Homo sapiens: one gene and its partners. The protein of the gene in region 1 interacts with the protein of each later gene in a biochemical or structural test. Each region holds a gene or a part of one and is shown in the gene's direction. Other genes may lie near its edges.

The links. Proteins that work in one complex are often made in the same cells at the same time.
Region 2: the proteins of ZBP1 (region 1) and PLXDC2 form a complex in vitro, tested with the Homo sapiens proteins (one study listed by BioGRID).
Region 3: the proteins of ZBP1 (region 1) and PALD1 form a complex in vitro, tested with the Homo sapiens proteins (one study listed by BioGRID).

Annotation. Positions count from the first base shown.
Region 1 is NC_000020.11:57,603,100-57,610,854, reverse strand, and holds the end of ZBP1 (Z-DNA-binding protein 1), read left to right. Parts: intron 1-159; coding exon of another isoform or gene 160-322; intron 323-487; coding exon 488-706; intron 707-2,135; exon of another isoform or gene 2,136-4,042; intron 4,043-5,353; exon of another isoform or gene 5,354-5,442; intron 5,443-6,085; coding exon 6,086-6,282; 3' UTR 6,283-7,003; downstream 7,004-7,755.
Region 2 is NC_000010.11:20,210,967-20,218,721, forward strand, and holds part of PLXDC2 (plexin domain-containing protein 2 isoform 1 precursor), read left to right. Parts: intron 1-702; coding exon 703-763; intron 764-6,459; coding exon 6,460-6,610; intron 6,611-7,755. UniProt on the Homo sapiens protein: May play a role in tumor angiogenesis.
Region 3 is NC_000010.11:70,530,302-70,538,056, forward strand, and holds part of PALD1 (paladin), read left to right. Parts: intron 1-988; coding exon 989-1,153; intron 1,154-2,319; coding exon 2,320-2,480; intron 2,481-2,693; coding exon 2,694-2,769; intron 2,770-3,620; coding exon 3,621-3,772; intron 3,773-4,123; coding exon 4,124-4,223; intron 4,224-4,437; coding exon 4,438-4,542; intron 4,543-7,509; coding exon 7,510-7,605; intron 7,606-7,755.

The DNA of each region.
Region 1 (7,755 bases):
CTGGGGGCCAGGGAGCAGAAGAGGTCTCGGGGGTGGAGGGGGCGGGACTCAGTGTGGATGATTCTTCAGAAGTTTGGGTGGGAAAGGGCAGAGCCAGATGGCAGGAGCTGGGGCCAGGCTGGGAGCCCCCATAAGATTTCAACCAAAAGTGGGGGCCAGTGTTCCAGTGCAGTGGGAAGCAGGCAGCAGAGGAGAGAGGAGCTGAATCCCAGAGGAAGACACTGACGTCCAGATCAGCCGGGCGGGATCAGTGGGGCAGACCCACTGCGGGATCAGTGGAGCAGAAAGACGCTTCCCAGACAGCACAACAGCACGAGCGGAGGTGTGGCGGGTGGAGGTGTGGCGGGCAGGCACAGGCTGTGCTCCTGGGATGGTGTGGGCCACTGGTGGGAGATCTGGGGAGGAGGGTGAACCAGGCTGGGGGTCAGGGTTCCCGGCCACTGTCCAGCTGCTCCTGGCTCCAGGCCTCTCTCCCTTTGACCCACAGTCTCTGCCACTGCTGCCGGCCCAGAAGCTTCGTTTGAAGCAAGAATTCCCAGTCCAGGAACTCACCCTGAGGGGGAAGCCGCCCAGAGAATCCACATGAAATCGTGCTTTCTCGAGGACGCCACCATCGGCAACAGCAACAAAATGTCTATCAGCCCAGGGGTGGCTGGCCCAGGAGGAGTCGCAGGGTCTGGAGAGGGGGAGCCAGGGGAGGACGCAGGTGAGCTAGGGGGCAGAGTGGACCCCTGTGTGTTCTCTCTCTCTCCCCACCTTCCACTCATTCATTCATTCACTCTCATCGATCATTCGCTAATCTCTGGTTTCCCGGAGTCTGGAGGCTGTGCCCACCCACAGCGAGGAGCAGCAGCTCTAGAGTCAGCGTGGAGGCTCCGTCCCCCTAGTGGAGGGACCCACCCAAGTCATTTCACCCAGGAGCCTCTGTCTCCTTAGCTGTAAAGTGGGATGGCAAGAATAGCCTGAAGCAACTCCTACAGTGGTTGCAAGACTGGGGTAAAATCTGAAGGCGAAGCTCAGCCCTACACCAGCCCTGCCAGCATTCAGGAGATAGGAGTGTTATTGTCTCATCATTGTTGTGGTGATTGTTTTGGGCCCGAGAGAGGTGCTGGGTTGCCATGCAAATAAGGTTCTGCATCAGGGCACAGGCTGACCTGCTGCAGTGGAGATGCCACACACGGTGGCCCCGCCTGCTTGAAGCCCAAGTCTCATGTCCGGGTGAGGGTAGCAGACCAGGGTTTCTTTTACCTCAGTGCTGAGTCGTCCCTTGGGCTCCGTCCTCATCTGTGGGGTTGAACTTAGCACCAGCAAGCAGAGGGGCGAGAGAGGGTACAGAGAGCCGCTGTTGTCTTTGACCAAGCCCACCCACTGCATCTGTGCTGTTCTGAGGGCCTGCACTTAGCCACGGGGGGTCTGGGAAGTGCCGCCTGTGTCAAGGCAGTCTAAGCCCAGCAGAGACTCAGGGGAGGGGGCTCCACTGCCAACAGGAAGAGGGGAGAGGGGAAACCAGTGCGGTTCACCGTCCCAGCCACCGTTTGGTCCCTGGAAGCTGCACAGGCTGGTTGCAGAGCCTGAGGATTCCAACTCTGCAGAAGGGAGCTCGGGGCCTCGGGTGGGGGCAGCTGGAGAGTTGGGCAGGTCCACGCAAGGTGGGGAGGGCCAGGGCAGGTGTACCTGGTGGGTGGAACAGTGTGGACAATGGCCTGGAGGTGAGGACATGACAGTGTGGGAACCCACAGGGGTTTGAGGGTGACCTGAGCATGGAGAGCAGAGCCAGGGCCTGGCTCCAGGCTGCAGTCGATGCTAAGGCAATTGGAAGCCATGGGGGGCTTTGAGCAGGAGAGGGGCTGGATGAGATTTTTGCCTCCCATGTGAAAAAAGAATTAGAAGGCGGATTTCCGCTCCTACCCTTTTGGGATCTGGAATAAGGAATCACACCCAGTCCCACCAATGGGTAGAAAACATGGATTCACGGAATCTGGAGGACTGGCCGGCATCCACCCTCCAGTGCCTGAAGGCCCAGGGGATGCATGTCCTGGAAGTCCAGAGGGTCTCCTCACCCCAAGGGCCGTGTCCTTGCTGTCCCAGCAACTGAGGAGACCCTGGCCCCACGTGTCTTCAAACTCTCCCTCCAGGACCCCTGGGAGCCCCATGCACATGTGACACCTGCAGAACGGGGACCAGGAGCGCATTCCTCAGGACTCAGGCCATGAGCATCTGGGAGCATGGACTTCCTTCCAGCAGCAAAGGGAGTCTCTGAGACCTCCAAGGCCACTGGGGACCCTTGGGAGGGCATGTGCCACCAGATGGGGATCCGGCTTAGGACCCCACAGCACAGGCTGTCTGCAGAGCCCTGTGGGTCTCAAGCCAGACCATTGAAGACTTCTCTTTCCGGAAAGAACACAGCACTGTGTTTTTTAAAAATAGCCACACTTCTGGGTGTAGTGGCTCATGCCTGTAATCCCAGCACTTTGGGAGGCCGAGGCAGGTGGATCACGAGGTCAGGAGATCGAGACCATCCTGGCTAACACGGTGAAACCCTCTCTCTACTAAAAAATACAAAAAATTAGCCAGGCATGGTGGCGGGCACATGTAGTCCCAGCTACTCAGGAGGCTGAGGCAGGAGAATGGCGTAAACCTGGGAGGCGGAGCTTGCAGTGAGCCAAGATCATGCCACTGCACTCCAGCCTGGGCGACAGAGCAAGACTCTGTCTCAAAAAAAAAAAATGGTCACACTCCCAGATTTGCCCTGCAACATCCTGACATTCTTCCCTAAGGTTCTAGCAGAAGAGCTGATGACATCTTTGCCCCTTGCCCTGACCCACCCACCTCTCTTTGTCCCCAAGAGACATCAATAGGCATAGCTCAGAGATATTATGGGTGAGTTCCAGAACACCCCAATAAAGCAAGTCATGCAAATTTTTGATTTCCCAGTGCATATACAAGTTATATTCACACGATGCTCTAGTCTATTAGGTGTGCACTGAATCACGTTATATCTAAAAAACAATGTACATACCTTAATTTTAAAATACTTTATTGCTAAAAATGCTAACCATCACCTGTCTTCTGCCAGTCATCATCTCTATGCTGGTGGAGGTCTTGCCTTGATGTTGATGGCTGCTGACTGATCAGGGTGGTGGTTGCTGAAGGTGGAGGCAGCTGTGGCAATTTCTTAAAATAAGGCAACAATGAAGTTCGCTGCAGCAATGAACTCTTCCTTTCATGAAAGCTTTCTCTGTAGCATGCAATGCTGTTTGATGGCATTTTACTCATACTAGAACTTCTTTCAAAATTGGAACCAAGACTCCCCAACCCTGCTGCTGCTTTACCAACTAGGTTTATATAGCAGTCTAAATCCTTTGTTGTCATTTCAAGAATGTTCGCAGTATCTTCACCAGGAATAGATGCCATCTCAAGAAACCACTTTCTTTGCTCATCCATAAGAAGCAACTCATCTGTTCAAGCTTTCTCATGAGATTGCAGCAATTCAGTCCCATCTTCATATTCCACTTCTAATTTGTGTTTTCCTGCTATTTCCACCACATTTGCAGTTGCTGCCTTCACTGAAGTCTTGAACCCCTCAAAGTCATTCATGAAATTTGGAATCAACTTCTTCCAGACTCCTGTGAATGTTGATAGTTTGACCTCCTCCCATGAATCACAAATGTTCTTAACGGCATGTAGATTGGTGATCTTTTCCAGAAGATTTTCAACTTACTTTGCCCAGATCCATCTGAGGAATCACTCTGTGTTGCACTTATGCCCTCATAAAATATATTTATTGAAGAATAAGAAGTGAATGTTGAAGTTACTCCTTAATCCATGGGCTGCAGAATGGATGCTGTGCTAGCAGGCATGAAAACAATGTTAATTCTTTTTTACATCTCCATCAGAGCCCGTGGATGAACAGGTGCATTGTCAACGAGTAGTAAAAAAAAAATTTTTTTTTGGCCCTCAATCCAGGATGCGGAACACTCAGATCCTGTGGTATGGACGATGAGCAGTGAAATGTTCAAAGGAATATTTTGTTTTCTAAGCAGTAAGTCTCAATGCTAGGCTTAAAATATTCAGTAAACCAAGCTATATACAGGTGCTCTCATCTAGCTTTGTTGCTTCATTCATAGAACATAGGCAGAGTCGATTTAGCATCATTCTTAAGGGCCCTAGAATTTCCAAAATGGTAATTGAGGAGAGGCTTCAGCTGAAAGTCACCAGCTACATTAATCTCCAACAAGAGAGCCTGTCCCCTTTGAAGCTTTGAAGCCAGGCATTGACATCTCCTTTCGAGTTATGAAAGTTCTAGATGACATCTTTTTTCAATAGAAGGCTGTTTCATCTACATTAAGAACCTGCTCTGTTGTGTAGTCACGCTCATCAATGATCTTAGCTAGAGCTTCCGGGTAACCTGCTGCAGCTTCTCCATCAGCACTTGCTGCTTCACCTCACACTTGCATGTTATGGGGACGGTTTCTTTCCTTAAACCTCATGAACCAACCTCTGCTCACTTCCAACTATTCTTCTGCAGCTTCCTCACCTCTCTCAGCCTTTAGAATTGAATAGAGCAAGGGCCTTGCCCTAGACGAGGCTTAGGTTTAAGAGATTGTTGTAGCTGGCTCGATCCTCTATCCAGACCACTAAAACTTTCTCCACACTAGCCACAAGGCTGGTTCACTTTCTCATCACTCATGTGTTTGCTGAAGTAAGACTTTTAATATCCTTCAAGACCCTTTCCTTTGCCTTCACAATTTGGCTAACTTTTGACCTAGCTTTCAACTTGTCTTAGCTTTGGACATGCCTCCCTCACCAAGCTTAATCATTTCTCACTTTTGATTTAAAGTGAGAGACGTGCAACTCTTCCTTTCACTTTAGCACATAGAGGCCGTTTGGGGTTATTTATTTATTTATTTATTTATTTTTGAGATGGAGTTTTGCTCTCGTTGTCTAGGCTGGAGTGCAATGGCACAATCTTGGCTCACTGCAACCTCCACCTCCCAGGTTCAAGGGATTCTTTTGCTTCAGCCTCCTGGGTCGCTGTGATTACAGACCTGCACCACCACGCCTGGCTAACTTTGTATTTTTAGTAGAGATGGGGTTTCTCCATGTAGGTCAGGCTGGTCTTGAACTCCCAACCTCAGGTGATCTGCCCACCTCAGCCTCCCAAAGTGTTGGGATTCTAGGTGTGACCCACGGCGCCCGGCCCATTGTAGGGTTATGAATTTTCCTAATTTCAATATTGTTGTGTCTTCAAGGAATAGGGAGGCCTGAGGAGAGGGAGAGAGAGGAGGAGATGGCTGATCAGTGACAGGTTAGAGCACACAGATTTATTAATTAACTTCGTCATCTTCTACAGGTGATATTTGTGGCACCCCAAAGCAAAGCAATTATAATAGCAACATCAAAGATCACTGGTCACAGATCACCATAACACATATAATCAAAATGAAAAAGTGTGAAATATTGTGAGGATTACCAAAATGTGACGCAGAGACAGGAAGTGAGCATATGCTGCTGGAAAAATTGGCACTGATAGACTCGCTTCACACAGGGTGCCACAAACCTTCAACTTGTGAAAAATGAGTGCAATATCTATGAAGTGTAATAAACCAAAGTACAATAAGGTAAAGTGAGATAAAATGAGGTCTGCCTGTCACTTCCTCCTTGAGTGGCGGGCGGGACCTTATCCTGAGATGTGTAAGGCCTGGAATGGTTTTTGTTTTGTTTTGTTTTGTTTTGTTTTGTTTTGTTTGAGGAAATTGCTAATCAGAGACTGTCAGTGCCAGAGCATGTAGAGCCGTCTTTTGGGGTCCCTGGGAGGACTGGGAGAGCCCTGGGATGGGGGCTTTCTGGTGTTATTTCTGCTCCTCCATCTCACTGCTGTGAAACTAGGACAGGACTGGCTACATGATCTGGGGGCCCAGTGCAAAGTGAAAAGGTGGGGCTCCCTGTTCAAGACTTTGTACAAATCTAAAGACAGTAACAACAAAGGCTCAAGCTGAGCTCGAAATCCTTCCAAGAGCGGGTCCCTGTGGAAATGCCCAGGCCACGTGCCCATGAAGCTGATCCCCCATCTTCTCTTCCCTAGGTCGTCGTCCCGCAGACACACAATCCAGAAGTCACTTTCCTCGAGACATTGGTCAGCCCATCACTCCCAGCCACTCGAAGCTCACCCCCAAGCTGGAAACTATGACTCTTGGAAACAGGAGTCACAAAGCTGCAGAAGGCAGCCACTATGTGGATGAAGCCTCACACGAGGGGAGCTGGTGGGGAGGTGGGATTTAGTGCACAGCCTCACGTGGGGCTTGGACACAGGCTGGGGGTGGGCGCATGCTAGGGAGACTAGCCTGCTGCTCTCTGCATTCCTTAGCGTCTTGTTTGACCTGCTTGCTTCCAGACATAACCTGCATGAATCAGTTTTGGGGGAATGGACCTGGCATGGGGATGGGTTCAGGCCAGGTCTTTTGATGGCCAGGAGTAGATGACAGGGAGTTGCCTTGGGGAACCTTTGGTGTGCCAAGAGGAGGTGGGTAGATGGGAGTGGGGCTCGGTCCCCCAGGCCCAGGGGACTCTCTCCACTCTTTCCTGGGCTCGGGGCATCTGCCTGGAGTTACCTTCCATCATGGCTACCTGCTGTGGTTTGAATGTTTGAGTCCCAACAAAATTCATATCAAAACATAATCCCAACTGGGTGCAGTGGCTCACGCCTGTAATCCCAGCACTTTGGGAGGCCGAGGCGGGCGGATCAATAGGTCAGGAAATCCAGACCGTCCTGGCTAACATGGTGAAACCCCGTCTCTACTAAAAAAAAAAATACAAAAAATTAGCCGGGCGTTGTGGCGGGCACCTGGAGTCCCAGCTACTCCGGAGGCTGAGGGAGGAGAATGGTGTGAACCCGGGAGGTGGAGCTTCCAGTGAGCCGAGATCGCGCCACTGCACTCCAGGCTGGGCGACAGAGCGAGACTCCGTCTCAAAAAAATAAATACATAAATAAAAAATAAACCAACCATAATCCCCAGTGCAGTGGTATGAAGAGATGGGGCCTTTTGGAGGGGATGGAGTCAGGAGGGCGAGTGGGATTGTGGGATTAGCGCTGCCATGAAAGGGCTTGAGGGAGCCTGTTAGTCCCGCTTGCCTGTCCGCCATGTGAGGATGCAGTAACAAAGTGCCATCCTTAAAGCCGAGACCAACCCCTCATCAGACACTGACTCTGCTGGCACCTTGATCTTGGCCTTCCCAGACCCCGAAACTGTAAGCAATAAATTCCTGTTGCTTATAAATTACCCAGGGTGAGGCATTTTTTTATAGCAGCCTGAGCCAACTGAAACACTGCCCCACTCTCTCCTCACCTGAGGTCTCACTTCCTCAAGGCCCATTGTGGCCACCTGACCTCCTTATCACCCGACCTTTCTAGAATCTTCTCTCCTCAGCCTTGATCTCTCAGGATCTTTTAGCTGGACTCCCAAAGAGAAAATTCTTTCCCACCCCGACCCTGGGTCCCCAGGCCCTGGTGGAAGTCATTGGCTGACCCATGGGTCAGGTGACCTCTTCTGGCCAATCAGCAGGGAGTGCTTGTGGATTAGCCCATTTTCACGCTGCCGATAAAGATATACCCAAGACGGGGTAATTTATAGGCAAAAAGAAGTTTAACGGACTCACACTTCCACGTGGCTGGGGAGGCCTCACAATCACGGTGGAAGGCGAAAGGCACGTCTTACATGGCAGCAGGCAAGAGAGAGAATGAGAGCCAAGGGAAAG
Region 2 (7,755 bases), on another chromosome or scaffold:
AAACTGTTACAGCATGGCCCAGGGTCCCAAGTAAATGAAGTCACATATTCACAATAAATCAAATTGTCAGCATAAACTATCTGCATGGCTCAAGACCCGAGGTAGACACTCTTAATAGGCAGGATAGTCCAGGAGTTTAGAGGTTACTTCTCAAGAGCAAGTCAAGGGCCAGTCTTTTTTTTGGAACATGCAGGGTCTGAAAACCCCACAACTGCCAAGTTAACATTTTACTGCACAAAAGGGAAAGAGTTTGTGTGATGGTGGGTCTTGAATGAATGAGTAAAATGAATGAATGAATGAACCTGAAATCATGAAATACAATATTTGCAAAAAAAGTGTGTATTTATTTGTTTTAATGATGAGAAAAAAAATACAAGGTAAAAGAAAATCCACTTCATAGAAGAGCGATTGGTCTTATCTTTGTGCAGGGATCTAGGTATTCCGTACAGTGCAGTTTGCTTTAACAGTGATTTGGTTGCCATGTGCGATCCTAACAGTGACATCCTAAGGAATGAGTGATTATTTAGCAACCCTCTAAATATTTCCCTGCTTCTCCAGTTGCGAGTTCTATAGAAGAGTTAATGTTATGCTAAACTGAAAATGTGAGAATGAACTACCTACTAATCTTTTACTTTTAATTTCTGTCCACCACCCTGCACCCTATCCTTCCTTTTCTGAACTGCATTGTGGTCTTCTTTGAAGATGTTCCAGTGGATTTGATCGTCATCGGCAGGACTGGGTGGACAGTGGATGCCCTGAAGAGGTACACATGCTTTATTGTGACAGAATCCTGGGACCAAGCTGTCATATACATGTGTTTTAACTGTTAATAATTTTTATTCAAAATTTATGCCCTAAAACTTAATGAAAGGAGAAGAATCCTTCTATAAGCCCAATGTCTGCAAATATTAGGGGTTCGATAACAGCTGGCTATTTTTGTTAAATTAGATAACATTTTCATTACATTGTAGCAACTTGCTACAACCCCTAATAGATGCAGACATGGGGCTTAACTATTTATATGTATTATCTCATTTCATTGTCATATTCATTCTATGAAGAACAGTGCCTGCACTGTCACTACCCCCATATTACCAAGGAGAGAAAGGGGAGGAGTGAGGGGAGCTTGTGGGGAGGGGTGAAGTGTGGGTTCTTGGAGAGTCAGGTAAATGGCTAGGGAATAGTAGGGCCAGGATTGGAATCTGTAGAGGAGTTCTCTTAAATGCTTGCTATTTTTCTAGGATGTACGAAACCATTGTTCCTCTTTGTAATTCAAACAGCAAGACCAGTGGTATTGTGGAGGGTGGAAGACTGCAGCAAATTGATGTGCTGTAATAAATGAGAAATTGTATAACATTAGTTGGCATAGAGAGATGGTATAATGTTAACTCTGAGGGAAACATGATAGAGACAAGGATGCAGTGAAGTCGTGTAAGCAATTGGATACCAGAAACAATTTTAACCCGTTTAAAAGCTTTGCAGTGACTCGCATTTATACTATCATTTCAAGATCATATAAAGATATCCTATAAAGTTTATGAAGAAAAGCATTTACTTCTTCTCCCTTCATTAAGTTTTGGGGTATCAATTTTGAATTAAAACTGCTAACAATTACAAAAGTTTAGCAAAGCAAGCCATGCCAAAATGCTGTTTTAAAAACTATTTGTTCAATGGTTACTTAGAGACTTTTTAAAAATTCATTTTTGGGGGGCATGTTTCATAAAGATCTTGAGCAATACATTTTTAAAAACATTCTTGAACTTTAAATGCAGTATTGCCAGTGTAGCTATAACCAACCTTTTGGCATTTCATTTAGGGAATGACAGCAGTGTGTGCTCATCCGTCTCACCTCACTTATCTAATAACGTAGTTCCAAAGAGTATCTATTGACAAAGCCATAGTTGTGTTTTGAGACAATCATTTCTTTCATATAATCAGTTACCTCAATATAAAATGTTGAAAATGAATATCTCCATATATGTAAAGATTGAGAATGTAATTCAGATGTATATTTTTTCTCCCAAATTTGGTTTATCTTTTCATTTTCTCTATGATTTTATTTCACTAACATTAATTATCAATTTAATCTGTCAAATGTATGAATCTTTTATTTTTATGATGAGTTTTATATGCCTGTGCATCTTCTTTTAGAAGAATTTTCCTACCAAATTCCATCTAGGTGTTATTTTTGTGTATTTTTTTCTGAATATTTTAAAGCTTTGTCTTACACGTCAAAATCTATTCCATTTGGAATTGGTTTTTATGTATTATATAAGGTAGAGATTCAGTTTCGTGGGGTTTTTTTTCTTGATGGATAGCCAAATTTCAAGCACCATTTGTTAACTAATCCTTTCTTTTGGCAATATCTTGCAAAGTCACCTGTTTTATGTATATTTTCTGGGCTCTCCTCTTCTAAAGCTCTGTCAGTACTTAGATCAGTGTCCCACTGTATTAATTTCTATTGTTTTATAAGAAATCTTACTATATACAGGACAAATCTCCTTACTTTTTCTTCTTCACAAGTGTTTGGGTATTTTAGGGCTTTTGTCCTTCATATAAATATTAAACTCACCTTGTCGAGATCTGTAATCCATCTATCAATACATCTTACTAACATTTTATTGGAAATACATTAAATTATGAATTAGATCACATTTCCTAATTACAGAGGCTTTTAAAATTTACCTTTTTTACTATTGACTTCTAGACTAATTGAGTCATCATCAGAGAACATGTTATGATCTTTAAAGTTGATTGGAAATTTTTCATGAACAAGTACATGGGCATTTTGTACAAAGGGTCTATGTGTGTTCAAGAAAAATGTGTGTTTTCCTGTTGGTTGGGTGTCAAGCTTGATAAATGTACTCTTCAGCTATACTTCTCCACTCTCTTTATTTTCACCTTCTGACTTCTTTGAAAGCTTGCCATTTTCATCTTTTCCTCATATTTTTAAACCTCTATTATATGTAATCTCTTTCCTTATTACTCTGTGCTGTATTTGGAGCAATTTCTTCAGATGTATTTACCGGTTTATTAACTCTCCCTTCATCTTGTTTAATATTCTATGTAATCTACTCACTGAAGTAGAAATTCCAACAAACATTTTTCATATCTAAAATTAAATTTGACACTTATTACATCTGCCAAGTATTTTATAGTTTCATGTGAACCGTTCATTTCTCAATTTTATCTTTTATGATTTTAAATATTCCGTGTATGATTTTTGTATATTCCATATTGGATGATCCCATTATCTAAAATTTTGGTGATCTAAATAGTGTGGTCATTGTTTTTGCTGATTCTTTCTCAGACAGCTATTTTTTTTTCTTTTTTAGTGTATATTTGTCTGATCCTATTCTAAGACCTAAATAGGTGATGTTTTCCCCCAAAGAAGATTTGATGATGGGATCCTCAGGATTTTCAGGCTACCATAAGTCTCTGCCCTAATGTGAGGAGGAGAAGTTCAGATTTTTCTCCCCTGTCTACTACTGCTGCAAGGCTTGTTCTCTTTAGAGCGATATTGATTTTGGATTTTTTTCCTCAGGGCAAATTCTGCTTTTTTAACTTCCCTTAATGTATACAGCTCCTACTGTCTTTATAGCACATAGCTTTTGCTTTGTTTTATTTTTTGAGTGGGGAGGGGAATAAACAATGGAAAGGCACCATTGGGATATTCTTTACCTCCTGCAAATCCTAAGGCTTTAAAATTCAAGTTTTATTCAGAATCTACTTGTTTTGTTATAGGAGGGCTATTTAGTTCCTTAGTCTGCCGTTACTGCCAAAAGCAATCTGAGCCTAGGATTTTACCTTAAACGTAGGGTGTTTACTGAACATTATTAGATCCTGTTTACGGAATACTAGGTCCTGTTCATTGACAGTAGAAACACAAAGAGAGAATAATATATGGCAAGTTCCATTCTATACTCCTTGAGTTTGAGATGTGTGTGACATTCACATGCAGACACCTGGTCAATAGATGACTTTTTGGGCCTGAAATCCAAAAGAGGAATGTGGACTGGAAATATAGATTTATGAATAATCAACATAAAGATGTTCATTGCAGTCATGGGTGTAGAAGAGATTGCAAAAGATAATGCATAGAATGAAGTGACAGAGCAAGAATGATCCATAAGAACCACCCCAACACTTAAGGAATTGACATAAATAAAAGGAAATTGAGATGGAGTTGTGAGGGAGGTGTCAGAACATTGAGGAGAGGGTGTGTCACAGAAACCAAGACAGGGGAGTGGACATCTGCACCATAGGCTGATGAGGTGTCAGTAGGACACCATGGAAGATGTTGGATATTTAGCTAAGGAGATATTTAGAAACATTGGTACGAGAAATTTCAACTCAGTTGGATTAGGTAAGAGCAAGATTGTCATAAAAGGGAAAGCTGGGAGTCTGAGAAGACCAAGGCAGACTGATCTCTCTGGAAATATGACTGCGTATGAATGGAGGGAAAGCAGTATAATGTCAGGATGCATTGGGGAGAAGAGGGAGGCAGTCCCTCTTCTGGGACTGCCTCCCTTTGCAAACTGGAATTTGGGTTTGCAAAATAAGATTAGGCATGCTTGTGTACCTTTAAGTGTTGTTGATAAGAAGCCAGCAGAGAATTAGGGGTGGCAAATATTGTAGAGAAAGGACTATGATCACCTAAGCAAATTCACAATACCTGTGAAGGTGGGCTGAGTTGAGCTAGGACATAGGTAGAAATAGGTTGAAAGGATGGCTATAAGGAAAGGTCCCCATCCATTATCACAGAAGGAAAGAATAGGTCAGCCCAGAGTCAAGTAAGTATGCTGATTCACTAAGAAATTTAAAGAAATCTTGCTGATCATGCCTATTTATCAAGGAAATGGAAGGTGAACCCAAGGAGTAAAACCGGGAGAATCATGATGGGATTGCAGTTTTAGGTAAAGTGGAGAGAGCTTGAAATTCATACTGAGCATAATGGGAGAGGTGATTAGCAAGACACAGCAATGCTGCCAAGTGGTATGCACGGCCCTGCTAAGGATGCAGGAGATGTTTGTGGAGCCCCCATGGCGGGTCTGTGTGATTATTCTCCAGCTGTGCCTGGCTTTGGAGCAGGCAGGGAAAAGGCAGATCTTTTCTTTAAAGGTGTTGTAGAAAAAAAAACTAAAAAAAAAAAAAAATAAAAAAATAGAGCAAGATGCTTGAAGCTACTGAAATGAGTGGTTGAAGTAATGGGGGAAAAAGAAACTTAAAAACAAAATCATTTTCTTAGGCTTTCTAAGTAGTCAAAGAATAAGAAGAATTGGAGTTCGCAGGTACAGGGATAGATGGAAAAAGGATAACTGAGCTTATGATTTCAGATCTAAAACATTTTCCACTACAGATATAGTCCAGGGTGTGGGGATGACAACTAAAGTGGTATCTGAAAGGAAATAATTAGATTAATGGGGCTCAGAGGTGCAGGAACTGGAATTTGGGGAATTAAATGAGACCCTAGTATGTTTAGACTTGAAGTGGAGAATAAACCTGTTTCATATCCTATTAATGAAAAGGAGGCTGTCTCAGGAAGTCTGCATTAACAAGGGGAAAGGCACCTAGCGCTCCACTAATGATGAGAGAAGTTTAAGAATGATATTTATTTAACAATAATTTTAAAATGTGGGATGAGAACCACTCATGTCCAGAATAGTTATTTTCTACTCAAGGCCCACCTGAGAGAGGGAGTCCACTGCGGCACAAAAGGTGGATAGAAACACCAACTTCTAAGCTATAAAAGTTTGGATGTTGGAGGTTGTTACCAGTGAAGGTTGTAGGATTTGTTTTCACAAATTAAAAATAAAAAATTCACTATGTCTCATTTCCTGATGTTTTCAATATAGCTCTGCTAAGGAGGAAAATAGGCTGAGTGATTACAAGAGTTCTGTTCAATCCTTTGCTTATGTGGTTTTGAATATTTCATAAAGGAAAACAAAATTTTAGACATTCATTCAACTTGTGACAGATGATTTTTGAAACAATGAAGTAGTATGGGGAAGTTAGCAAATATTTCGGATTTAGCATTGTCAGTTTGATACGAAAGGAATGCACTTTTTCTCCACAAACCTGAGTATGTTTTAAACCTTATCTTTATGCACCTGTTTTTCTTCTAGTATAAATTTTCCCTTTTGACAGTGTGTCTTTTATAAATATACCAATGTAAAATTTAGGGCAAGGTAAACAGTAATATGAAAGCTTAACAGCAGTAAATGATGAAACCTAAATATCTAAAAAGGGAAATGCCTTGTTCCATCCATCTTTTTCTCTTTCCTATTTTATAAACTTCATAAATTAGCAAAATCATTAATATAGTCTTGTACAAAAGTAATTTATTCCTTGTCTTGATATGAGAGGCTTTTGTGCTTTACAGCCCAGCTTCTTTGATGTAAGTTCTAAAAATAGATTTGTGATCACTCCATTTGTTTTCCTTTTCTTTTCTCTTACTAGTCAAAAGAGAAGATGTGTGAGAATACAGAACCAGTGGAAACTTCTTCTCGAACCACCACAACCGTAGGAGCGACAACCACCCAGTTCAGGGTCCTAACTACCACCAGAAGAGCAGTGACTTCTCAGTTTCCCACCAGCCTCCCTACAGAAGGTACCCAAGAGATAGTTTGCTTTTTTTTTTTTTTTTTTTTTTTTTTTTCCCTGAAGGAAGGAAAAATCACTGTGTTGACATGTACTGGAATAGCTCCTACTCTCTAGGTCTCTCTAAAGTTATTCTTTGGCAAACTGGATTTCTAAGGGATTTCCAAAGGGGAAAAAGACAAAATTATTATGAACTAAAAGTAAATGCTGGGATTCTTTTAATGCACTGTGCCTTTTTTTAAGACATAGCTTTTACCATTGATTCTGGCTTCTTGTCCTCTCCTTCCTAGAAAAGAAATACAGATTTCTTCCTGTGTGGCTAAATTTTGTACTAAGCAAATCCAACTTCACAATCACAGGTTAGAAAGGCAAAATGCATATAAAATGTCCGTTGATTCTGGATTCTGAACAATAAATAATTCTATTAATATATAATTCTAATGTTTTCCAGAATGCAGTCAATAAAATATATTGGTCTATAACCTATACAGAAACACTGTATGTGTCATAGAAATTGTCCTTGAAAACAACTATTTCCTCTTCTAAGGTAGGCAGAAATACTAGAGAGTGTTAATGCTTGGGCACAGCTCAGGAGGAAGAAAGTGTATTACCCAACATACGATAATTTTCTATTCTGAATGATACCACCAGGAGGGAGAGGGCAGAAACATAAGACTGGCCACGAATCAGGTTTGAGGGGGATAAATGGGTCTTACTTGTTTATTGTTATAAGCCTCACTTTCTTTGGCTTGAATAAAAAATTAAATATGGAACTTTTAATTGGAATTTAATTTGATATTATAAGGTGAACTGGAATAAAGTGGGGTGGAAAGCAGCTGCTAAGTGCATTTTACTGCTTTTAAAAGCAACATTATCTTTTAATCCATATTATTTTGGATTATTATATTAAAGTCCACGAAAATATTCCTATAATTTAAACCCTACCCTTTAGAGTGAAACATAACCAGTAAAATAAAAAAGCATATCCTACATTTTGTTCAGTCAGGATAAGATCTCTTTATATAGAATTTTGGTCATCTTTTCTAGCAATGGGTAAACATTTAACTTTTGGAGTTAAATTTGTAAATATTGACAAATCTTAACTGTCACAATGAATTTGGATTTTCCTTGATCTTGATTTTTTAAAATGAATAA
Region 3 (7,755 bases), on another chromosome or scaffold:
CTTCATAGACCCTACTTGGGAGCCTCAGAGGAAGCAGGGGGCGTGACCGGGTGACAGGAGGAGCCAGCTCATAATTTGACAGCTTGCTGAATGGTGATCACAGCTAACACTTAAGTCCTGATGTTAGCCCTGTGATGGAGTGGCAGTTTGTCTCCCATTTTGCAGAGGAGGAAACAGGCCCAGAGAAGCTAAGTGACTTGCTCAAGGTCACACAGCTCATGAGTGGTACCCCAAGACCCAAACCCAGGCAGCTGAATTCCCAAGTGCCTGCTTTCAAGGACTGTTCTTACCTGTCGGATGTTGAGGCAGGGTTTTGCGTGTCCCTAGGACACAGGCTGAGGGTCTGCTGCGATTGTAGGCTTCTTGAGTGCAGCTGCATCTGAATTGACCCCGGAGTTAAGGTGGAAAGGCTTTGAGTGAGACAGAATGGGGTGGGGGTGTGGGCTGTGTGCAGGTCCCATCTTCCCATCTTGATGATAAGTTCCTCAAGGGGACCATCTGCCCACACATTTCCCTCTGCCTGTATGGTGCTCAGTGAATGAATGATTGCGTGGTCATGGGGCATTCATTTCTTCAGCTGATGTTCATCAAACACCTGATTTATCCAGGACACCATGCTAGGACACCATGCTAGGAATTATGGGTACATGAAAATGACCAGGACATGATTTTGCCTACGAGGAACCTGTGGTCCATTAAGGGGGAAAAGATGCATTCATTGATAGTACAAAGCAGGAATTAACGCCAAGAGATTCATATGAAGGACTCTTGACCCTGACAGGAGGCAGGGGTCACTGCTGACTGGGAGGGTCACAGGGAGGTAGCATTTGGACTGAGCTTTGTTTCTTGGGTAGGATTCAGGTTGCAGGGATGGTGTGGGGTGCAGGAGGAAGGAACAGCTTGGGCAGAGGCCCTGAGGTGGGGCAGTGGTGCAGGTGTCTGTGCGGGATCATGATGATGGCTTCCTTCCCCCTCGGGCTCCTGGCAGGAGTGTGTCATCTTCTGTGTGCGGGAGGAACCTGTGCTTTTCCTGCGTGCAGATGAGGACTTTGTGTCCTACACACCTCGAGACAAGCAGAACCTTCATGAGAACCTCCAGGGCCTTGGACCCGGGGTCCGGGTGGAGAGCCTGGAGCTGGCCATCCGGAAAGAGGTGAGGACCAGTGCGGTGTGCGGGAGACCCCAGCCCACAGCCCAGCTTTGCAGATGCTCTTTTTGGGGCCAGCTCACCTGCTCTTACTGGCCCGTGTTCCCCCACTGTTGTGCCCTGCTTGGGTGAGTGGCTGGCTGCAAGGCTGACTCACGGGCAGCCAGAGGAAGGACTTCCTATTCTAGCTCTCTTTGCCTCTGCCCCTTTCCCACCCTGCTTGTCTCCTTGATGCTCAATGTCCTTATTTAGAAAGGGGTCTGGTGGGCCGGGTGCAGTGGCTTATACCTGTAATTCCAGCACTTTGGGAGGCCGAGGTGGGCAGGAGTTCAAGACCAGCCTGACCAACGTGGTGAAACTGTGTCTCTACTAAAAATACAAAAAATTAGCTGGACGTGCTTGCGCATGCCTATAATCCTAGCTACTCGGGAGGCTGAGGCAGGAGAATTGCTTGAACCTGGGAGGCGGAGGTTGCAGTGAGCCGAGATCACACTACTGCACTCCAGCCTGGGCTACAGAGTGAAACTCTTTCTAAAAAAAAAAAAAGAAAAAGAAAAAGAAAGGGTTCTAGGTGAGTGAAAAGAGCGCTAGACCAGAAGGACCAAGGCTGCAGTTCAACGCTTTGAGAGCCACGAGCCTCTGAGTCAGTTCCCTCAGTGGGTCTGTGGGCCTGTTTCAGTATCCTCTGTCCTCCTCCTCCTCCATAACACAGAGGCTTGTGGAGGCCTCTGAGGCAGCTGACATACCATGAAGGTGTGTGAATAGAGTGTGGGGTCCCAGTGTCCCCAGAAACTTCCAGGTCAGGAACCGAGGCCATGCCGGCGCCCAGCTCTTTGCCTCTCCCATCCCCTCCAGGCCTCCTGTGTGCTCTGCTCCCCTCGGCTCCAGCTCCCAGCTGACCACACCTCCCCCGTCCTGGCACTGGTGGCTTTGTGAATTCCTGCACCCACTGGGCAGAGCCCTCCTGCCTTGCCCCTGTGTAGGCACCCCGATTCCTTCAGAACTCCCAGGAATGGCATAGAGAGCACTTCTGGCTGTGTAGTTCCCTCATGGGGGGCAGAAGCCTGCCTGTGGCCTCTGCATGGTCTGGTCACTCCAGAGCTCAGCCAGGACACTCAGGGAGGGTCTTGAAGTTCAGGCCATGGCCCTCTGACCCCCACACCTCCCTCTAGATCCACGACTTTGCCCAGCTGAGCGAGAACACATACCATGTGTACCATAACACCGAGGACCTGTGGGGGGAGCCCCATGCTGTGGCCATCCATGGTGAGGACGACTTGCATGTGACGGAGGAGGTGTACAAGCGGCCCCTCTTCCTGCAGCCCACCTACAGGTACCACAGGGCCACCCCCAGCCCTGGCCATGGGTGCTCCAGGTCCTGCTCTCCAGCTGCAGCCTCAGTTTCACCATCTGCAGGTTGGGCGGAGTCCCCCACACCCATGTCTCCCACAGTGGGGCCCATTTCCAAACAGTGCCCGGGAATAGGGGGTGAGGGGGATTCCCAGAGTGGGTGCCTGCCTGATGGCTGCTCTCCCTCACCTGGCAGGTACCACCGCCTGCCCCTGCCCGAGCAAGGGAGTCCCCTGGAGGCCCAGTTGGACGCCTTTGTCAGTGTTCTCCGGGTAACTGGGGCACGGGCGCGCATGGGGGAGGAGTCTTGAGAGTCGTCCCCATGGAGGTGCTCAGGGTGGGCACAGCCTCTCGCCTTCCTCAGAGGAAGGCTTCATTCTGTGTTGTGTATGTGAGCATGTTAGGGTGGACGTGTGTTGGTGTCTGTCTCTGTATATGTCTGTGTGTGTCAGCGCCTTTGTGTGTGTCTGTGGGGAGTGTGTGTACATGTTTATGTGTCTCTCTGTGTGTCTGTGTGTTCCTGTCTGTGTGTCTCTGTGTGGGGATACATGTGTTTCTGTGTGTGTATGTGTCTGTGTGTGTATGTGTTTGTGTGTGTGTACCTGTATGTAGGTGTGTGTTTGTGCATTCTCTTATGGCAGAGTCCATCACTGACCGCTGGCCCAGCTGCTGGCCGTGGCTGGGCTGCCAACTTGCTGTGTGGTCCCGGACTAATCACCTCACCTCTCTAGACCTCAGTTCCTCCTTTCTTTAGTGGAGCTAACGACTCTTGCCCTATAGACTGTTCAGCTGACATTTCCTGAGTCCTGGCGGAGTTTCTCTCCAGCCCCCTTCAGGGCATTATCTTATTTCACTGGCATCTTGCAGAAGGTGTTAATACTGGCCTGGTGCCCTCTGAGTCGCTCTCACTTCCAGTTCTTTGAGCTCCTCCAAGGCCTGGGGAGGGAGCAGGTGGAGCTGATCAGGCTGTGGCTTTGGCAGAAGAGGCCAAGACACCTATTGGAGCCCACTTTGCTGCAGACTGTGGGGCAGGGTGGGCTGATGTCATGCTTTTCTCCCTGCTCAGGCCTCAGCCCAGGGTTTCCTGGTCTCACTGGGGCCTGATCCTCATGGTCTTTCCCAGGAGACCCCCAGCCTGCTGCAGCTCCGTGATGCCCACGGGCCTCCCCCAGCCCTCGTCTTCAGCTGCCAGATGGGCGTGGGCAGGACCAACCTGGGCATGGTCCTGGGCACCCTCATCCTGCTTCACCGCAGTGGGACCACCTCCCAGCCAGAGTGAGTGGCCCGGGGCCCAGCGTCCTGAAGGGCTGTGGGGCCGAGGAGGGGACAGGCTGCCCCACAGTGTGGGGACATGTCTAGGAGCCCAGAGCCAGAGCTGGAAATTTGGCATCTGGGGTTCATTTCCTGGTTTGCCACGAGACTTGCTGGGAGACCTGGAGAAAGTCACCTGACCTTTCTGGGCCTCAGTTTCCCTAGTTGGGGAAATGTCCCCTGCTTCCCACAATGTGATTCAGAAGGAACCTGTAGTCTGGTGTCCCCCAGCGGCCATATGAGTGGAGACAGCAGGCGGGTGGCCGTGTGAGACCTTTGGAAGAGCCTGCTAATGTACTGACCCTGCCTCGACAGGGCTGCCCCCACGCAGGCCAAGCCCCTGCCTATGGAGCAGTTCCAGGTGATCCAGAGCTTTCTCCGCATGGTGCCCCAGGGAAGGAGGATGGTGGAAGAGGTGAGTGAGGGACAGCAAAGGGCTGGGGCAGGGGTGGTGGAGGGGACGGTCACTCCTCTCACTGGTCGGGGCTCTCTTCCTTCCCGATACCCTCCCCTACCTCTCTGCCAATCTTTTTCTTTCCCTCTCTTTTCTCTTTTCTCCTGCCGTTCTGCCTTGACCCTGCTCCCCACCCCCCCACCTCCCTCTTACTTGCCTTGGTCTCTGGCACCAGGTGGACAGAGCCATCACTGCCTGTGCCGAGTTGCATGACCTGAAAGAAGTGGTCTTGGAAAACCAGAAGAAGTTAGAAGGTATCCGACCGGAGAGCCCAGCCCAGGTGAGGCATGGAAGGACGTGTGAGCACTCTGCTTCTCTGTGAGCCCTGCAGCCTGATTTCATTAGGCATGTTGACTGGTTTCTTTCAGACTGACTTTTTCTGGCTGCTGCGTCTCCCATGAGAAGAGCAGTTTTCAGAGGAAGGGGAGATAGGGGCTCTGGGCCCACAGGAAGGACAAGGAAGAGGGGAAGTTTACTTTTCCTGACCAGGTCCCTTCAGCTGCAGAATAAACAGGACAGAGGAAGGGGCTGCTGGCCAGGGCTGCAGGGGCCCCTGGACTCAGATACTCCCCAGGCCACTCATGGCCTCCCACTAGTAAAACTCCTGGTGTTTCTTTGGGAAGACTGGGGTTTGGTCCAGCTGGCTGCTTCTGAAAGACTTATGGGCTCTAGGCTGTCTCAGCAGACCCTGTCCCCATGCCTTAGCGAAAGGAGGTGGGCTTGATAGTGTTTATATCATACAGCGCATGGAAAGAATCTAAAGCCACAGAGGCAGCTTCTTCTTTTTTCTTGTTTCTTCTTCTCTTCCTCCTCCTCCTTCTCCTCCCCCCTCTTTTTCCTCACCCTCTTCCTCCTTCCCCCTTCCTCCTCCCCCCGCTTCCTCCTTCCCCCTCTTCCTCTTCCCCACTTTTCCTCCTCTCCCCTTCCTTCTCCCTCTCTTCCTCTTTCTCCGCCTCTTCCTCCTTCCTCCTCTTCTTTCCTCCTCCTCCTTCCTCCTCCTTCTCTTCCTTCCTCCTCCTTCTTCCTCCTTCCTTCTCCTTCCTCTTCCTCCTTCTCCTCCTTCTTCTCGTCTTCCTCCTCCCTCCTCCCTTCCTTCTCCTCCTCCTTCTCCTTTCTTCTCCTTTTTCTTCTTCTCTTCCTCCTCCTGCTTCTCCTTCAATAGGGTCTTGCTCTGTTGCCCAGGCTGGAGCGCAGTGGTGCAGTCATAGCTCACTGCAACCTCGAACTCCTAGACTCAAGGGATTCGTCCACCTCAACCTCCTGAGTATCTGGGACTACAGGTGCATGTCACCACACCTTACTTTTTTAGAGATGGGGTGTTGCTATGTTGCCCAGGCTGGTCTTCAACTCCTGGCCTCAAGCAGTCCTCCTGCCTTGGCCTCCCAAAACACTGGGTCTTTTTCTTTCTAAAAATATTTTTAAAAGGCTGGGCACGGTGGCTCACACCTGTAATCCCAGCACTTTGGGAGGCTGAGGCAGATGGATCACTTGAAATCAGGAGTTTGAGACCCGACTGGCTAACATGGTGAAATCCTGTCTCCACAGAAAACACAGAAATTAGCTGGGTGTGGTGGCACGCGTAGTACCAACTACCAGGGAGCTGGTGTGTGCCCAGTAGTACCAGCTATCAGGGAGGCTGAGGCAGGAGGATCTTGTGAGCCCAGGAGTTCCAGGCTGCAGTGGGCTATGATCGTACCACTGCACTCTAGGCTGAGCAACAGAGCAAGACCCTGTCTCAAAAAACAAAACAAAACGAACCCAAACCAAAAAAAATCCCATACAGTACTTAGAGCCTGCCACAGAGTCCCTGGAATGTCACCCCTGCTGTGATTTACTAAACAGTCCCCCTCTTCTTGGACAATTGAGTTGCTCCAGTTCCCCATCAGTGTAAATACTTCTTTGTTGAGCAGCTTCATGAAAATGAAGGCTGTTGTGTATTTAGGATTCTTTCTCCCCTTAGTCTAGATTGGGCATCAGCAAACTACGGCTTAGACCAAATCCAGCCTGCCGCCTGTCTTTGTAAATGTGTTACTGGAACACAGTCTTGCTGTTCTCTACTCTGCTGGCCCACGACTGCTCTTATGCTGGGATGGCAGAGTTCAGTAGCTGCAGCAGGGACCCTGAAGCCTGAAAGTCTAGAGTATTTACCGTCTGGCCCTTTATGGAAAAAGTTTGCCGACACCTGGTGGAGATTCCCAAAGATGGGATTAAATTTCACCAAAGGGCGTGGCCCTTCTTTAGGGCCTCTGTGAATCTCACTTGAATCTCACTTGCCCTCCAAAAGGTACTGACCCAGCAGGAGAACCTGGAGATCCGAGGGCCCTTGGGGTTCTCTCGGACAACCCCCCATGCAGAGGAAGCTGGGCTGGGGTCAGGAGACTTGGGGAATCTGGCTCTGTTTGCTGTCAGCTGTGTGACTTTAAGGAAGTTACCTCATTTCTCTGAATCTCCGTTTCCCTCTGTAAATTAGGAGTAATTAGGATGGCTCCCCTGGAGCACTGCTGTGAGGGTCTTTGTATTTGTATTTTCTTGTGGAGAGGCTCCAGTTCTTTTTTTTTTTTTGAGACAGGGTCTCACTTTGTCATCTGGGCTGGAGTGCAACGGTGAGATCATAGCTCACTGGAGCCTCAACTTCCCAGGCTCAAGCGATTCTCCCACCTCAGCCTCACGAGTGGCTGGGACTACAGGCATGTGCCACCATGCCTAATTTTTGTATTTTTTTATAGAGATGGGGTTTTGCCATGTTGCCCAGCTTGTTTTGCACTCCTGAGCTGAAGCGATCTGGCTGTCTCAGCCTCCCAACGTGCTGGGACCACAGGCGTGAGCCACCGCACCCAGCCAGGTTCCAGTTCTTAAGGGAGGGCCTCTGGCTCGGGGGTGTTCACACACTTGGCTTCCTCAACACAGAGGGTGCACAACCCTGACCTGTTGGGTGTCGCTGGAGCTAAGTGAGGGAGCCCCTGCCTGTCTTGGCGCTGGGAGCCTGCTTGGGGAGACCAGCCCTGCACCTAGAACCACAGTGCCTGGTGTGGTCACCCACATATCTCCCCTGACCGCAGATAACCACAGCATCTGGGATAGGGTGAGACACTTAGAAGAACTTACAGCCTGGCAGAACTGTGTCATGAAGGGAGGGAAAGACTGTCTTCTGGGGAGTTCCAAGGCTTAACTCCTGCCCTTGCAGGGATGGGGACAGGGACAAGACTGCCTGAGGAGTCTGTCCTTAACACCCTGTCCTCTCTCTCAGGGAAGCGGCAGCCGACACAGCGTCTGGCAGAGGGCGCTGTGGAGCCTGGAGCGATACTTCTACCTGATCCTGTTTAACTACTACCTTCATGAGCAGGTGGGGCCTGGGAGGAGCAGACCCACGTCCCCTCCTCCTGGGCCTCTCCCAGCCTCCCCACCGCAGTGACTGGCTTGCTGTGGAGGGAGACCCCCCAAGGAACCGGGGAGGGAAGGGAGGCCAGGAGAGACCCAGATTCGGGAGTAGTCC